Regions from separate parts of the Homo sapiens genome. Here region 2 is linked to region 1. The links come from fine-mapping of genetic effects on gene expression. A gene starts in region 1. The other region holds a variant in brackets. All regions are shown on one strand. Distances are from middle to middle.

Evidence for each region.
Region 2: its variant is fine-mapped to the expression of PPM1F-AS1 in whole blood (TOPMed, PIP above 0.99).

What each region holds. Positions count from the first base shown.
Region 1 is chr22:21,933,849-21,942,175 of GRCh38, forward strand. PPM1F-AS1 (PPM1F antisense RNA 1) reads left to right here and starts at 4,389. Exons shown (of 2, transcript NR_147620.1): 1 at 4,389-5,765; 2 at 7,254-8,327. PPM1F (protein phosphatase, Mg2+/Mn2+ dependent 1F) reads right to left here. Exons shown (of 8, transcript NM_014634.4): 3 at 5,684-5,832; 4 at 176-378. RefSeq lists enhancers at 4,006-4,812, 4,813-5,620, 5,621-6,427 and a silencer at 4,364-4,523.
Region 2 is chr22:21,976,081-21,984,407 of GRCh38, forward strand. It overlaps TOP3B (DNA topoisomerase III beta), which reads right to left and starts at 6,707. Exons shown (of 18, transcript NM_001282112.2): 1 at 6,650-6,707. RefSeq lists enhancers at 2,488-2,657, 6,108-7,094, 6,592-6,886. The variant C/T (reference allele first, on the strand shown) is at 3,809.

The DNA of each region.
Region 1 (8,327 bases):
CTCATAACAGACTCACACTGTTGCCCTTCTTAGTCTCTTGCTGGGCAAGTACAGGGGCTGACGGGTGTCTCTCCTGTCTCAGCCTTGGTGGGCAGCTCTTCTCGGTACCTGGGGGGCCCCCACCCTCGCCCCGGTCCTCCGAAGCTGTCCCCAGGGTCTGGACGGGAGCACTCACAGACAAGCCGAAGAGCTGGTTGAAGGAAGGGAGGGACACGTGCCGGTCCTCCATCTTGCGGCGAGTGTTCCGGATGGCGTGGATGGAGACCAGCCACTGCCGCTGTGAGGCCCGGGCAGCCAATGGCACCTGCTTCTGCCACTGGCCGGCGACTTCCCAAAGGCGGTTAAAGAAACTCTGTGCCAGGCTTTGGGCATCCAGCACTGATGGGCACAATGGAGGGATTGTCAGGGAAGTGCCAACCAAGCCAGCTGAGGCCTCGCTGGCTCCCTGACAGCTCCCACAGGGGCCTGCAAAGCCCCCATCACCTCCCGGGGCATTGTGAGCACATCAACTCAATAACGCGCACATGGCAGCCTGTTACCAGAATTAGAAATGTCTAGTTTGGCAACTTGCCCCTTGAAGTCTCCCATCCCACCATGGAGCAACTCTACTCATGGGAACCCACCCTGAAGAAATCATCAGAAACACAAAAATAATTTTAAAGACAAAGTACAGAATCACTTATAATTGCCCATTAATTAGAAATACTATATATCCAATGACAAAGGAATAATACTTAAATTATGATCTAGTCTCGGCCAGGCGCAGTGGCTCACGCCTGTAATCCCAGCACTTTGGGAGGCCGAGGTGGGCGGATCACCCGAGGTCAGGAGTTCGAGACCAGCCTAGCCAACATGGTGAAACCCCGTCTCTACTAAAAATACACAAATTAGCCAGGCATGGTGGCGGGCGCCTGTAATCCCAGCTACTCGGGAGGCTGAGGCAGGAGAATCGCTTGAACCTGGGAGGCGGAGGTTGCAGTGAGCCGAGATCATGCCATTATGCTCCAGTCTGGGCGACAGAGCAAGACTCTGTCTCAAAAAAAAAAAAAAAAAAAAAAGATCTAGTCTCTTGATGAAGAATTAAGCTGCTATTAAATATGATTTTCATAACGAAATATGCAACTCCCATACGACCCCACCGTGGCACTCCTGTGGACTTATCCCAGAACAATGAAGGCTGTTCACATAAAAGCTTGAACACATGAACACAAATGTTCATAGCAGCTTTATCTGGAACAGCCAAAATCTGGAGTCAGCCTAGATGTCCTTCAACGTGGAAATGGTTAAACAAACCGTGGTCGACCCATACCTTTGAATACCACTCAAGAATGGCAAAGAATGAACTCCTGATGCATCAAACAACCTGGGCTAATCTCCAGAGAATTAAACCAGTCCCCTAAAGTTACACATCATATGCTTCCATTTATATGTGTTCTTGAAATAATAAAATGGTAGAAGCCGAGAAGATTAGTAGTTGCCAGTGGTTAGGGATGGGGTCTGTAGGGGTGGGGGTATAAGGGTGGCCTTAAAAGGGTGACAGGAGGGATCCTGGTGATGGAACTGCTCTGTATTTTGACCATGTTAGGATCCTGGTGGTGATATTTTATTATAGTTTTGCAAAATGTTACCATTGGAGGAAACTGGGTAAAGTATACATGGAATCTCTTTGTATTATTTATTACAACTGCATGTGCAGCTATGATTATCTCAAAACAAAAAGTTTAATTAAAAAAAACTAGCCCAGGCATAGTGGCTCATGCCTGTAATCCCAGCACTTTGAGAGGCTGAGGTGGGAGGACTGCTTGAGGTCAGGAGTTCAAGACCAGCCTGGATAACATAAAGAGACCTTGTCTCTTAAAAACAAACAGGCTGGGCGCCATGGCTCATGCCTGTAGTCCCGCGCTTTGAGAGGTAAAGGCAGGCAGATCACTTGAGGTCCGGAGTTCGAGACCACCCTGACCAACAAAGTGAAACCCCGTCTCTACTAAAAATACAAAAATTAGCTGGGCGTGCTGGCATGCACATGTAGTCCCAGCTACTTGGGAGGCTGAGGCAGGAAAATTGCTTGAATCCGGGAGGCAGAGGTTGCAGTGAGCCAAGATTGAGCCACTACACTCCAGCCTGGACAACAGAGCGAAACTCAGTCGCAAATGAACAACACCAAACCAAAAAAAATTAGCTGTGTGTGGTGGTATATCTACTCCCAGCTATTCGGGAGGCTGGGGCAGGAGGATCCCTTGAGCCAAGGACGTCGAGGTTACGGCGATCTCCGATTACACCACTGCATTCCAGTCTGGGTGACAGAGGGAGACCTGGTCTCTTAAAACAGAAAACTAAAAAATGGATTTTAATAGAGTTTATAAGCATGTAAAATGCTTCTGTCATGATACTAAGTGAAAAAAGAAGGAAAATTACATATGCAGTTTAACTACAAGTCCATGAAAAACCACCAGGGCCAGAAAAAAAAAAAGGCGGGAACAGCACACAACCAAGGTGTCAGAGTGGGCCTGCACGTGGCAGTTCCACGGACAGCTTTTTCCTGAAGTACACTTTCTTAATACTTCCCCAGTTTTTCATTACAAGTGTTAGTCTCGTGTGACAGTGGCTTTAAAGCATGTCCACAAATTCTTTGACTTCCCCTTTTGCGAGGTGGAGCTCACTTCCCACTGCTGAGTGTGGGAGCTGGCTGCTTCTGATGAAGAGTGGCAGTGACTGCGTGTGCTTCAGGTGTTACGAAACAAAGAGGCCCTGCGCCTCCCGCCTTGTGTATTCTCACTCTCTTCCTCCCTCCCTCTCATCGCTCAATCTGAGCTGTGAGGATGCTCAAGCAGCGCCACGGAGAGTCCACATGGGACGGGACCAGGGCCTCCTGTCAGTGGCCGTGTGTTGAAACCACCGTGGAAGCAGGCCCTCCAGCCCAGCCAGCAACCATGTCACCACAACCCAGTAAGAGACCCTGGACCAGAACCAGCTAAGCTGCTCCCAGATTCCAGACCCACAGAAACTGGGAGAATAAATGTCTGTTGTTTTAAGCCACTACATTTGGGGCAATTTGTTATGTAGCAACAAATAATATAAGCCACAATACTCATTTGAAAAGAAAAAATACCCAAATCCTACCTAAGCTTGGCTTCTCAAGAAAAGATCAACCAGTAACAGGCCCAAAGGAAACCATGGGGGCTCTGGCTTCAGGGACTCATGTCACTTCAATGCACAAACTCTCCTGGAACTCCTGCCAGCCCAGGTGCATGTGGCAAGCATGGTGAATCAGGGCCAGTCAGCCGAGGGCAGGAGTTGAGTGTCACAGGCCACACCCAAAGGACATGGGGAACTGAGAGGAGGAAAGAGCTCCTGCCTAAAGGCGGAGGCTGTGGAAGAAAAGGAGAAGGGCTGAGGCCAGAGGGGGCCACCGAGGAAGAACCATGAACGCGAGGGCTTATGCACGCAGGAGGTCACAGAAAGACAGGTTCTTGGGAATCCATGCATCAAGGCAGGGGTGGGGGCATCCAGAGCCAGCTGCTGCCGCCATGGCCAACACAGGGGCCTATTCAAGCATTTGGCAAGAACTGGGGACTGGCAAGGCTATGGGTGAAGGAGGGGCCTGAGAACTCATTCAGGCAGGCCCAGCTCAGGGAAGGCAGCTCCACACAAGTTTGGCCAGTGGATCCCCTGCAAACCAGCAGGAAACCCCCCTCGTCCTGCCAGTCCTTGTAGCGCTGCCTCCTCTTCCTCTCGTCTGAGGGCCACTGTGCCCAGAAAACTGCCCCTAAATGCCATGGACTCCTCCTCACTCCCTCTGGAAACTGTGGGCTCCTGGTGCTTACCAGGCCTGAGCTCGGGCTGGGGGAGACTCCGGCCGCCGCTGTGGCTCACGGTCTCGCCCCGGGTGCTACTGCTATTTCCAACAGCCGCTTAGCCTAGACTCTGCTCAGGAAAGGCCAGCGGCTGAGGCAGTGCTGCCCAGCCCACGGACTCCCCATGCCAAGGGCTGCAGCCCCGCAACCTCGCTTCTGGATTCTTCGCTGATCCAGTCACCGGGGAGGGGCTGACTGGCAGCCACACAGAGGTTTCAGCCACTCGCTGCTCTTCAGTGGCAATTCTTATAATACAATCCCCACTCTGACGCAATTTTGTAAGAATGGCTTGGAGTCCAAAAACTTGACTACATTCTACTTCCGTGACAGGGAGAGCATGATCAAGGCCGCTAGGCAGGCCTGCATGCGAGGCACTCTGACAGACGGGGAAGCAAGGGCAGGCGAGACTTCCTTCTAGCTGCGCCCTCCCTCCTTCCCAGGCCTGCAGGAGCCCCGAGCGTAGGACTGGGCTGGTGCCGGCGCAGCAACGCTCCTTCTCACCGGCAGGTGGCGCTGTCTCCCGCGTGGACGGACAGAGACCCATCAGGCGGGGAGGGCCTGGGCGGTGGCGGCGCCCCCTTGGTGGGGCCGCAGAGCGGAGGAGCAGCAGCTGCCACCGGCCGGAAGCCTGCTGGCTCGGCCGAGAACAATGGCCGCCTGTCACTGTGGACAGCTGTCTCCCAGGCTAAGGCAAGGCTGCGCTCCCAGGGAATGCGGGCAGGGAGCCAGGGCGGAGGGCAGAGGACGAGAGCGAGGAGGAGAGCGCGGGCACCCACTGATGCTGGCGGCCTCGGGTATTCGCTTTCTCTCTCTTCTCCCACCTTGTTCCTTTTCCCCGGATGCACGCATGCACTAGTAATGCCGAATTTAGAACAACAGGGAAAGGAAAGGAAATGGCAAAGGAAGGGAAAGGAAATGGCCGACAGGAAATGGCAAGGAAGGGAAAATCCACTGCAACTCTGCTGCCTGCTGGCCTGTCCAGGGACAACTATTCAGCTGGGTGGGACGTTGCTACCCCCTTGTGGCACCCCTGCTGCAGCCTGCGATTCTTACGCCCTGTATTTCTGGTCTAACATCAACCAACACTTTGGCGAAATATAATAAAATGAAATTACTAGGAGAATGAAAGAAAGTCACATGAAATAAAAGCCCTGCTTTTTAATGATTATATCCTCTGTGAAATGGATCTGCAGCCCTCTCCATTTCTGGGTTCCCCTGGCCACACCATGCTTATGGCTGTCCCAGGAGCAGGCTGACAGACAAGCTTCCACCAGCATCTAACCATGGGGCTCATGGACACCGTAGAGCGTCTCCACCCAACAGAATCCTGACTTGGGGGCAGCTGAGGCAGGGGGCCCGAGCGTTGAGGGGACCACGCTGCTGCCCCGAGACCTGCTGGCATGCCACCTGGCCAACCCTGACTTCGCCTGCCCGGGCGCATGTTAACTGAGTTACAACACTGAGGGCACTTGAACCTGGCTGCATGACCAGAGATCGATCACCTGTGAGATCCTCTGTGAAACGGGATAAGCATCTTTAATTTCCTGGGCTGTTCTGGAACTTCAGTCAGACAGGACACAGGAGGGTGTCTGCACCACCCACCCCTGCCTCGTGGGCTGACTGGGAACTATATGACCTGTGGAGGGCTGTGACCGCCACCCTCCACCTCACTGGGGCCGCAAGCCTTCTCTGCTCCTTGATTCTGCTGCCGTTGTGAGCGAGGGCCCCAGCACCCTTAGGGACCCCAATCAATGGGCTTCCCACAATGTCGTCACCCTTTGTTGCCTGCTAAGCAGCCCTGGGGCCACCTCAGAAGAAACAGAACTCACAGGTCACAGGGGCCTTTTCCTCCTCGTCATCGTCCTCCTCCTCTTCTTCTTCCTCCCTGGGCAACTTCCTGAATTCGGAAAGGTCTGTCTGTAGCAGCTGTGAAACTGCTTCGTGGGCCAGAGCAGCAGCAAGTGGTGGCGGGGCCTTCCTAGGGATGAGGAGGGGGAAGTGAGGGGCAGCCCCCAGCAGGAGACCACACCTAGCCCCCCTTCCCCAACTGTCAGCCCACATGCTGAGGGGTCACGGCCAGCAGGGCGGCCCCTGTCCTCAGGGAGCTGGGACAGGAAGGTCACAGGACAGCAAAGGCAGACGCACAACCATCTGGTGGGGAGCTGGACCATACTTGAGCCTGCGGCTAGTTGGGAGGGGGCTGTTGATGGGCAAGTAAACTGCCTGACATCCATGCTGATGATGGCTCCTGGCCACAGGAGGGCAGAGGAATCACCCATGCCAGCTGGGGACCCTGGGGGGTGGGGAGTGTTCTGGGTTGAATTGTGTCCCCCCTAAATTCATACACTGAGGCCCTAACCCCCAGTACCTCAGAATGGAGCTCATTTGGAAACAGGGTCATTACAGATGGAATTAGTTAAGATGACGTCATGCTGGAGCAGGCTGGGCCCCTACTCCAATGACTGATGTCTCTATGAAAAAGGGAATTTGGGCCGGGTGCGGTGGCTCACATCTGTAATCCCAGTACTTTGGGAGGCCAAGGCAGGTAGATCACGAGGTCAGGAGTTTGAGACCAGCCTGGCCAACATGGTAAAACCTCATCTCTACTAAAAATACAAAAATTAGCCGGGTGTGGTGGCGCATGCCTGTAGTTCCAGCTACTCAGGAGGCTGAGGCAGAAGAATTGCTTGAACCTGGGAGGTGGAGGTTGCAGTGAGCCAAGATTGTGCCACTGCACTCCAGCCTAGGCGACAGAGCAAGATGCTGTCTCCAAAAAAAAAAAACAGGTTGGGGGAGGAATTTGGACACAGACACACACACACAGAGAGAATGCCAGGGGAACATGAGGCAGAGACCTGGGGGATGAACCTACAAGCCAGGGAATGCCAAGGGTTGCCCACAAACCACCAGAAGGAGCCAGTTCTGTCAATATCCTGATCTCAGATGACAGCCTCCAGCACCATGAAGCACACTTCTGTTGTTTAAGCTGCTGGGTCTGTGGTCATTTGTACAGCAGCTCCAGGAAGCTGATCCTGGGGTGTGGGACCCATGGGCACACTCAGCAGAGGAAGTGGCTGTGCGTGGTCCACAAGGTCCCTGGGCGGATGGGGCCATAGGAGCTGCCGGGGTGAGGGGCTGTGGGAACAGGGCAGGCCAAGCTTTATGCTAACAGGGAAGCACTGCCATTGGTCTGTGTTTTATTTATTTATTTTTAGAGACAGGGTCTTGCTCTGTCTCCCAGGCTGGAGCACAGCTGTGCAATCATGGCTCGCTGCAGCCTCAAACCCCTGGGCTCAAGAGATCCTCTCACCTCAGACTCCAGAGTAGTTAGGGCTACAGGCAGTAGTTAGGGCTACAGACATCACCATGTCCAGCTAATCTGTAAATTTTTTTGTACAGGTGGGGTTTTGCTATGTTGTCCAGGCTGGTCTTGAACTCCTGCCCTCAAGTGATCCTCCCATCTCAGCCTCCCAAAGCCCTGGGATAATGGCGTGAGCCGCCACACCTGGCCGCCTTTGGTCTGTTTGAAGAGGGACATGGCATGATCAGATGGGGCTTTTAGGCCTCTCTGACCCTGGTGTGGAGGGTGGGCTGGCAAGAAGGGGACGACTGTCTAAAGGAGAGAGTCTAAGACCTGGGCTGGGCAGGGCCATGGTGACAAACAGGAGCAGACAGAGTCGGGCAGTATAAATGGAGGGGCAGGGACAGTGTTGAAGTTTCTATTCTGAGCAACTAGAAGGCTCGTGGTACAGTTAATTACCCTGATGGGGATGGAAGAGTCAGGCAGGGGATGGGCAATGGGCTCTGTTTCCACAGCGACTTGTGTTCCACGGAGGTCAAGAGGCCTGAGGGCCTGCAAGAACATGGTCTGGGCAGGAGATGGAGCTGCGGAATGAATGAGGATAGGGGGCTGAGTCCCACAGGGCCAGAGCATGGCTAGCAAAGTGGGGATGACTCCAGGAGTGGCCTTCTGGGTGCCACGAAGGAAATGTTTTAAGAAGTGAGATTGGGTCACTGCTTTCAATGTCATAGAACAGAGCTGAGCAGTTGAGGAGGCGTAGTGGGTAGAAAGGGAGGTCGCAGCAGGCTGAAAGCAAACCGACAGGAGGGTTAGCGTCTTTTAGCAGGTAGGCAGGGCAGAAGAGAGCCACGGGGCAGATCAGGGAAAGAAACACTGAAGCCATCTGTGGCTGAGAAGGAGGGCAGTGGGGAGGAGTGTCTAAAATTCTGAGCCATCCCTGGCTTTTCTGGGCAGAAGGGGTCGCTCCCTCAGTGGCCCTATGGCCTCTAACATGCATTTTGACCCCTGGAATCTGCCTTCTCACCCAGTGGGGGCCCTGGAAGCTGGACAACACACATTCACCCCTGTGTGCCTGTCCCTGAGAGTGGGGGTCAGGGGAGCATGCCTGGGGTGGCGAGGTGATTCTGCACTGGGCCGACACTCCCGGCTTTAACTGGAAGGCGAGGACCTTC
Region 2 (8,327 bases), 42 kb after region 1:
CATGCTAGGAAGATGCTGGGGCCTGGGGATCTGGAGTGATGGGTCAGGCCAGGTGGATGCCTGGCCCTCCTCTCTGGACTGGCTCTTCCACCTACAGGTGGACTCACCTGGAAAGAGGAACTATCGTGGCCGAGAGCAGCACCTCCCGCTCAGCAAAGCACTTGGACGCCCCAGGACACTTTACAAAATGCAGATGCCCAGGCTGGGCCCCCCAGGTCCTTCTGATCCATGATGGGCCTGAGACCCTCTGGCTAGTCGGTCCAGCCCCAAGCAGACATCAGGACTCTGTCACATCTATCTCCCACCTATTCCACTCCACCTTTTGCTTTGCAGGTCATGCTCTGGCCAAATTAAATCAAATATCATCATCGAAGCAAACACGCACTTGAAGCCTCTGTGCCTGCGCTTCCCTGCCTGAGAGAAAGCTCCGCCAGGCCTGGAGGATGCAGCTGGATGGCCCACAGGCCCAGCTCAAGTCTCCCAACACCACTGGCAGGGTAAGTCAGCCCTCCTGTGCCCACAGCTCTTGGGCTAGGTCTCCATTCCAACCCACTCACATCATGCCATCATCAGCGACTACTTCACCCCCAAAATAGGACACGATGGGCTTTGTGTCTGAATCACTGTTGGTCTTTGCAACAGCTTTCTGTGCCTGACACATGACATTCAATACCTGCTAGCCAAGTAAAAGAAAACCACATGAACCCTTTTTGTTTTTTCAGTCATTATAAATGTAGCACTGATGTTTATAAACATAGCACCGTATTAAAAAAGAAAAAAAAGACTCGTATTGAGACAACTGGGAAATCTGCTGTGAAAAAAAATAAAGTTAGACTCCTGCTTCCTAAATCCCACTAAAACCGATTCCAGATCTAGCAAAGGTTTGAGTAGAAACAATGAAACCAGAAAATATTAGGAAAAACATGTGCTTTTAAAATAAATCTCACAAGCCAGGTGTGGTAGCACATGCCTATAGTGTCAGCCACTCAGGAGGCTGAGGCAAGAGGATCGCTTGCTTGAGGCCAGGAATTCAAGGCTGTTGTGTGCCATGACTGCACCTGTGGATAGAACAGCCACTTCACTCCAGCCTAGGTGACAGCAAGACCCTGTCTCAAAAAAAGTAAAAGCAAAATAAAATAATCTCAGCATAAAGAAAAACTACCACCTAGATGGGCACAGTGGCTCACGCCTGTATCCCAGCACTTTGGGAGGCTGAGGTGGGTGGACCACTTGAGGTCAGGAGTTCAAGACCAGCCTGGCCAACATGGCAAAACCCCATCTCTAATAAAAATACAAAAATTAGCTGGGTGTGGTGGTGGGTGCCTATAATCCCAGCTGCTTGGGAGGCTGAGGCATGAGAATCGCTCGAACTCAGGAAGTGGAGGTTGCAGTGAGCCGAGATCATGCTATTGCACTCCAGCTTGTACAACAGAGTGAGACTCCATCTCAAACAAAAAAAAAAAAAAAAAAAAAAGGGAAAACCACCACGTAAGTACCTTTGTGGTATCACATCATGTCCAACAACACTCGCAGAAGAAACTCAGAACTACAATGAGCTTGTGCTTATCACATAGGGAGAGACTCAAAGTCGTTGCACACACAGCAGATGAGGGCATGGGGAAGTTAAATGGGAACAACCTCTATGTGCAGCAATTCAGGGATCCCTCTCAAAGTCCGAGTGCACATCCCAGCAATTCCACTCCTTGGAATGAACTTAATAGTCCAGTTATTTATTGAGTACCTACTGCATGCTTGGCCTAGTCCAGGATGCAGGGAATACAGCACAAAGCAACACCAGGTCCTGCCCTCCCAGAACTCATGCTGTAGTATGGGAGCAGGGGAGGGACAGGGCAGGGCTGGGTGACACCTGGGAGAAGAGTCCAGGCAGAAGGAGCAGGGAAGGTGAGGTCCTTGGGGAGGATATGGCTGGGCAGGGGGGCTCATGGGGCTGAGGGAGGGAGCAGGGGTGTAGAATGTGGGTCTGCTCTAGGGGTGCTGGGAGGCAGCAGAGGGTTTGCATAGGTGTGGGATAATCTGACTTCAAGTGTTAAAGGGACCTCTCTGGCTGCCACATAGAAGAGGATGAATGGGCCCTGGGTAGCAGTGGTGGAGGATGCGAGGGAAGTCAGAATCCAGGCAGACCTGGGATGGCGGGACATGGGAGGGGGAGGGGAAGGTGAGTCAAGAATGACCTGAGGCAGAGCTGGGCATGGGCTCACACCTGCCATGGGCTCACACCTATAATCCTAGTGCTTTGGGAGGCGAAGGCAAGAGGACCACTTGAGGCCAGGAGTTTGAGAAGAGCCTGATTAACACAATGAGACCTCATCTTTACAAAAAAGCAAAAGGAACAACCCATGGCTTTGGCTTAGGCATGACAGGAAGGGACTGGCAGTCTGATGTGGGACTTCAGGTGTGTTAAACGGGACCTGCCCATTGGACAGCCTGGGTGGCCTGGAGGAGGTGGCAGCAATGTGGAAGGAGCCCAGGCTGGGGGTCGGGAGATGAGGAGCTAGCAGGGTGAGTCAGGAGGGGTAAGGTCCTGAAAGCCACAGGAAAGAGCACTTCAGGGCAGTTATCACCATGTGGGGGACACTGACAGGCCAGGCGAGATGGCAGCTGAGACCTGACTGTAGGGTCTGGCAAACAGAGCCCTGGGTAATCCTGATGGGGCCATGTGGTGAGTGACAGATGAAAGCTGCATGGGGTGAGCTCAACAAAACCTGGGAGATGGGAGAAGGCTGGTGCACTGTCCCCTCTTGTTTCAGGATGGTGGCTGTGCCAGCATGTTCTCCGCTGATGGGACTGCTCTGGCGAGAAGGAAAAGAGAAGCTGCGTGCCGGAGGGGAAGGAACTGCTGCAGTGATGGCCTTGGGAGGGTGAGGGGCAAGAGAGGCAGCCGGTCAGCATCCAGGCGATGCAGAGCTGCCACAAGGCTGCACTTCTCTTGGTGGAGGAGGAGGCATGGTACGGCTGTCCACTGAGGGAGGACAGGTGGTGATGCTGCGGGCAGGCCCACAGCAGAGGAAGCACTGGATTTAGTTAGATGGGAGAGTCCAGGTGAGTAGGAGGGAGAGGGAGTGGGTCAGGGTTCGAGGGGAGAGATTACAAGGACAGAACCTGACTCTGAGTTGGGTGAAGAGGGAGGTGAGGGTTGGGGAGGGTCCACAGAGGGTGTGCTCTGTGGGGTCCAGGAAGTGAGGCACAAGAGCAGGAAGTGGGAGTCAAAGAAGCAACTCCCAGAGGGTGGGAGGCTCAAACAGGAATTACAGAGGGGCCTGGGTGGTGGCATGCTGACCCAGGGAGGGCAAGGGCTGTGAGACAGGTAGAGAGTGAAGTCACCTGGGGAGACTCACAGGAGTCAGTGGTGGGCCCTGACAAGACTGTCCATGTGGACTCTGAGTCCCCAGGAGGTAGGACAGGGCAGCGCTGGAGTGGCCTCAGGCTGGGCACGGTGGTGCCTGTGATGAACCACATCACTGGGGAGTTCTCTGCAGCATTATCAATCATGATAAAAGGTTAGAAACAAGCTGGTGTCTGTCAACAGGGAGGTGGTTAAATAAAAGCATGGCATTCTCTGGCCGGGCGCGGTGGCTCACGCCTGTAATCCCAGCACTTTGGGAGGCCAAGGTGGGCAGATCACGAGGTCAGGAGATCAAGACCATCCTGACTAACGTGGTGAAACCCCGTCTCTACTAAAAATACTAAAAATTAGCTGGGCATGGTGGCAGGCGCCTGTAGTCCCAGCTACTCGGGAGGCTGAGGCAGGAGAATGGTGTGAACCCGGGAAGCGGAGCTTGCAGTGAGC[C/T]GAGATTGCGCCACTGCACTCCAGCCTGGGCGACAGAGTGAGACTCCATCTCCAAAAAAAAAAAAAAAAAAAAAAAGCATGGCATTCTCTACAGTAGAGCACCTGGCAGCATTACAAAGGAAAGCATCTGCTTGGTACATACTAACGTGGATCAGATCACTGAAATAAATCATGCTAAGAAAGCTGGGCATGTAACGGTGTGTAGAGAGCACTGCCATCTGTGATCACACATATGTGTGCACACGTGTGCACTTGATTATGAAGAGGCGATATGTCTGGATGGAACGCAAAACAAACAGTCCAAGCAATCACCTGGAGTGGGTGTTAGGGCCTGGAGGTCAGGGCTGGGGGTGCCTCCTCACCACATTCCCTTTTGCACCTTTTACATTTAGCGCCTGGACACAGGTGACTGAGGGACAAGAACTAAGACAAGGGACTTTACAATAAAACCAGAAAAATAAAGGAGGGTTGTAAAGGGCATTGTTCAGAAAGGATGCCAAAGGAACTCCCTCACTAAAGGGGCTTCTGCTGCTCATCATGCTGTGCAGGGGAAGAGGTCCAAGGTCGGCCTTGGGCTGTCAACCTTGTTCCCCACTTAAGAGATCACAGGACTACAGTGAAATCAGTAATCTTGACCAGAAAGCTGTCCCAAATAAAATGACAATTTGCTTTTTTCCTCAAAATAAGTAAGTGGATGTTCCCCTTAAATGTACAACCATCCCACAGTGAAAGAGCCGAGGCCTTGTGGAATGACGACACTGTCTGCAGATGAGCTCTCTGGCCCATGACAGCTCCAGCTGCATCTCCCAAGGCTCTGCTGCGCACCCACCTTTCCTCCCTGTGCGCCAGCAGGCTTCGGCCTAGGCCACTTTTCCCCCTTAGTCTACTTGCTCTGACCCCTGCCCCTCCCCTCCTGAAGACTGCATCTGGCGTCAGCAGTCTGTCTCTCCCACAATTGTCAGGTTCATTGCCATATTTCTGGCACCCAGCATGCACTAAATGCCTGCTGAGGGAATGAATGAACAACCAAGGTGATTATGACTGGCCTCTGCTCTCCGTTCTGGGGAAGTTTTGATTCTACCAAAATCAGAGGCCCAGAAGTGAGGTTTAAAAGAGATTTAGGGACTCCCCTTCTCTCACCCTGGGAAGCCAGAGGCCAAAAGGGAAAACTCGCAGCAGAGGGGCATTGTTCTGTGAGGGTCTGAGTTTCCCATCTCTTCCAAAGTAGGAAATTTTGTCCTAAAATGTTTCCTCAGATTTTCTCATGTCTATGCCACAGAGTAGTCAGCAATTATGTATGACATAATGAGGACACACCAGGGACCAGGCAGTCCTGCCAGCATCCTAGGCAGGGATGCTAATAGGTGCTGCCATTTTATTGGCCTAGACTGGGACTGTGGGGTCAGAGAGACCAGAGCTCCAGTGGCTGGACTTGGTTGTTCTAGAACCCGTGCCCCAAGCCTGATCCTGTCCTGCCTCTGTGAGCACTCTGATGGAACAGCAGCCCAGCTTTGCTTCCTTGTAGCACTCATCACTACACTTGGTACAGCTTCCATCTACTTATTCAGCTCTTGTCTTACAGCTCCTAGAAAGTAAGTAAGCAGCAGGAGAACACGGGTTTTGCTTTGTGCATTCTCACGGTAAATAGACAGTGAGCAAATACTTTGCGAGGCTGAGGCAGGTGGATCACCCGAGGTCAGCAGTTCAAGACCAGCCTGGCCAACATGGTGAAGCCTGGTCTCTACTAAAAATACAAAAATTAGCTGGGCGTGGTGGCGCATGCCTGTAATCCCAGCTACTCAGGAGGCTGAGGCAGGAGAATCACTTGAACCCGGGGGCGGAGGTTGCAGTGAGCTGAGATCGCGCCACTGCACTCCAGCCTGGGTGACAGAGTGAGACTCTGCCTGCAACAAAACAAACAAAAAAAGAAACAAGCAGATGTGGCCTGGGAGTAGGCCTAGCAGTGGTCTGAATAGCATTAAAATTCCTAGGATTTACCACCTCAGTAACTTTACCAAATGCTTCTAGAATCAGGAAAAGAGGGAAACAACCATTTCTTAAGCTCCTCCTTTGTAGTAGGCACACCATAGCTATCAACACTATTCAATCTCGCCAGCAACCCCATAAGGCAGGTGTTGTAATTTTTTAAAACTGTGAGTAAATGGAGGTTCAGAACAAGTCACACTAGTGTCAGGTGACCTTGGCAAAAGAATCCCAGGACTGGCTGGCCATCAAGCCCAAGTTAGGCTGGCCTCTCAGGTCCTGTTTCAAAAGGTGAGAAGATAAAAAGGCAAGACTAGGAACATCTTACCTTTCACTTCTGCGAGAAATTATTGCCCCTGGATTCCAGCTAATTTGTTCACAAAAGTACCCTACTTCATTTACAGATAACAGGTCAGAGAACCTGGGTGCCCTCAAAACCCAGCCAGGGCCTAGGGGGCGGCGAGTGGAAGCTGCCTGGGTGTGTACCGCACCGATCTGGGCCCCGGTGGCTGCACAGCTTCCCTGAGCCTCAGTTTCCCTACCTGTGAGACTGGTACAGCAGATCTCACCCTAAAGAGCTGTGGGAGGGTTCGAAGAAGAAAAGTATTAACCACAGCGCCTGCTCCCTGCAGGCACATGGCGGGCCCATCTCCACCTCCCTGAACCCCCACAGCAAGCCCCGCGGGAGAGTATCACCCCCGCCAGGGAAGAGGCAACAAGAATGCAGAGCCCGGCCCGGGCGCTCTCCCGAGCTCGCGGGTCCTCCGCCGGCCAACGTTCAGGAAACAAGCCAGAAAAATGCGTGCGCTTCCCGCCTTTCTGAGCCGCCGGGCGAGGGTCCCGCAGCCCGCCGCTCACCCACAGCCGCACCGCGGATCCAGCTCCGGTCCTTGTTCCCGGGGCGGCTACCGACAACCCCTATTTCCGGGTCCAGCCGCTTCTGGCGTCCCCGCGTCCGGTGTGCCAGCGTCTGCCCTCCGGCTCCGGCGGGTCGGCGTTCTTAGGTTCCGTGGCTCGCGGATTCCGGGAGCACCCCAGGGAGTGGCACTTGCACGCCGCGGACCGCAGGGATCCCCAAGCCCTGCACCCAGATTCTTCCCCGCCACGGAGAGACAATCATGACAATTATCATTACAATGATTATGAAAACTGGCATGAAAACATTTATGCTGTTAATAATTAAAATAATAAAAATGTACCGATGTGTGTATAGCAGGCTTCTTTTCGATGCTGTAAAAAAATCTGTGGAATGAATGAATGATCTGTGTAAAATATATTTGGAAGATGAATTCTAAAATTAAGTTATTTATTTATTTATTTATTTATTTATTTTGAGACAGAGTTTTACTCTTGTCGCCCAGGCTGGAGTGCAGTGGTGTGATCTCGGCTCACTGAAACCTCCGCCTCCCAGGTTCAAGCAATTCGCCTGCCTCAGCCTCCTAAATAGCTGGGATTACAGGCGTGCGCCACCACGCCCAGCTAATTTATATGTGTATGTATATATATGTGTGTGTATACATATATATATATATTTTTTTTTTTTTTTTTGAGGCGGAGTCTCACTCTGTTGCCCAGGCTGAAGTGCAGTGGCGCAATCTCGGCTCACTGCAACCTCCGCCTCCCGGGTTCAAGCGATGATCTCGCCTCAGCCTCCCAAGTAGCTGGGACTATAGGCGCTTGCCACCACGCGGGCTAATTTTTTGTATTTTTTTAGTAGAGACGGGGCTTCACCGTGTTAGCCAGGATGGTCTCGATCTCCTGACCTCGTGATCCGCCCGCCTTGGCCTCCCAAAGATTTCTATATTTTTAGTAGAGACGGGGGTTTCACCGTGTTAACCAGGCTAGTCTTGAACTCCTGACCTTAGGTGGTCCGCCTCCCTCGGCCTCCCAAAATGCTGGGATTACAGGTGTGACTCTTCACGCTCGGCCAACTAATTTATTTGTTAGAGCATTAGGATTATGGAAGGTTTAAAATACGTTTTATGATCTTATTTTAAATAACATACACACATTGCCCTTGTTCCTTGTAGATTTTCCCAACCTGCTGTTTTTTTTTTTTTTTTTTTAAAGACAGGGTTTCACTCTGTCACCCAGGCTGGAGCGCAGTAGCGAGATCACAGCTCACTGCAGCCTCGATCTCCTGGCGTCAGGCGATGCTCTCACCTCAGCCTCCCCAGTAGCTGGGACCACAGGTGCCAGCCACCAAGCCCAGCCAATTAATTTTTTTTTTTTTGGTAGAGATGGGGTCTAGGGGGAGGGTCTCACTATGTTGCCCAGATTGGTCTCAAACTCCTGGCCTCAAGTGATCCTCCTGCCTCGGCCTCCCAAAGTGCTGGGATTACAGGGGTGAGCCACTGTCCCGGGCCCCAACCTGCCTTTATTGGAATGATCTGTGTAAAGTATATCTGGAAGATGAATTCTAAAATTAAGTTATTTATTTATCTAATTTATTTTGATAAATAATAAGTAGTCTGGATAGAGGCTCTGGAAAAAGAAAAGTTCTATAGGCAAATTAAGGTTTGGAAATGTCACAAAT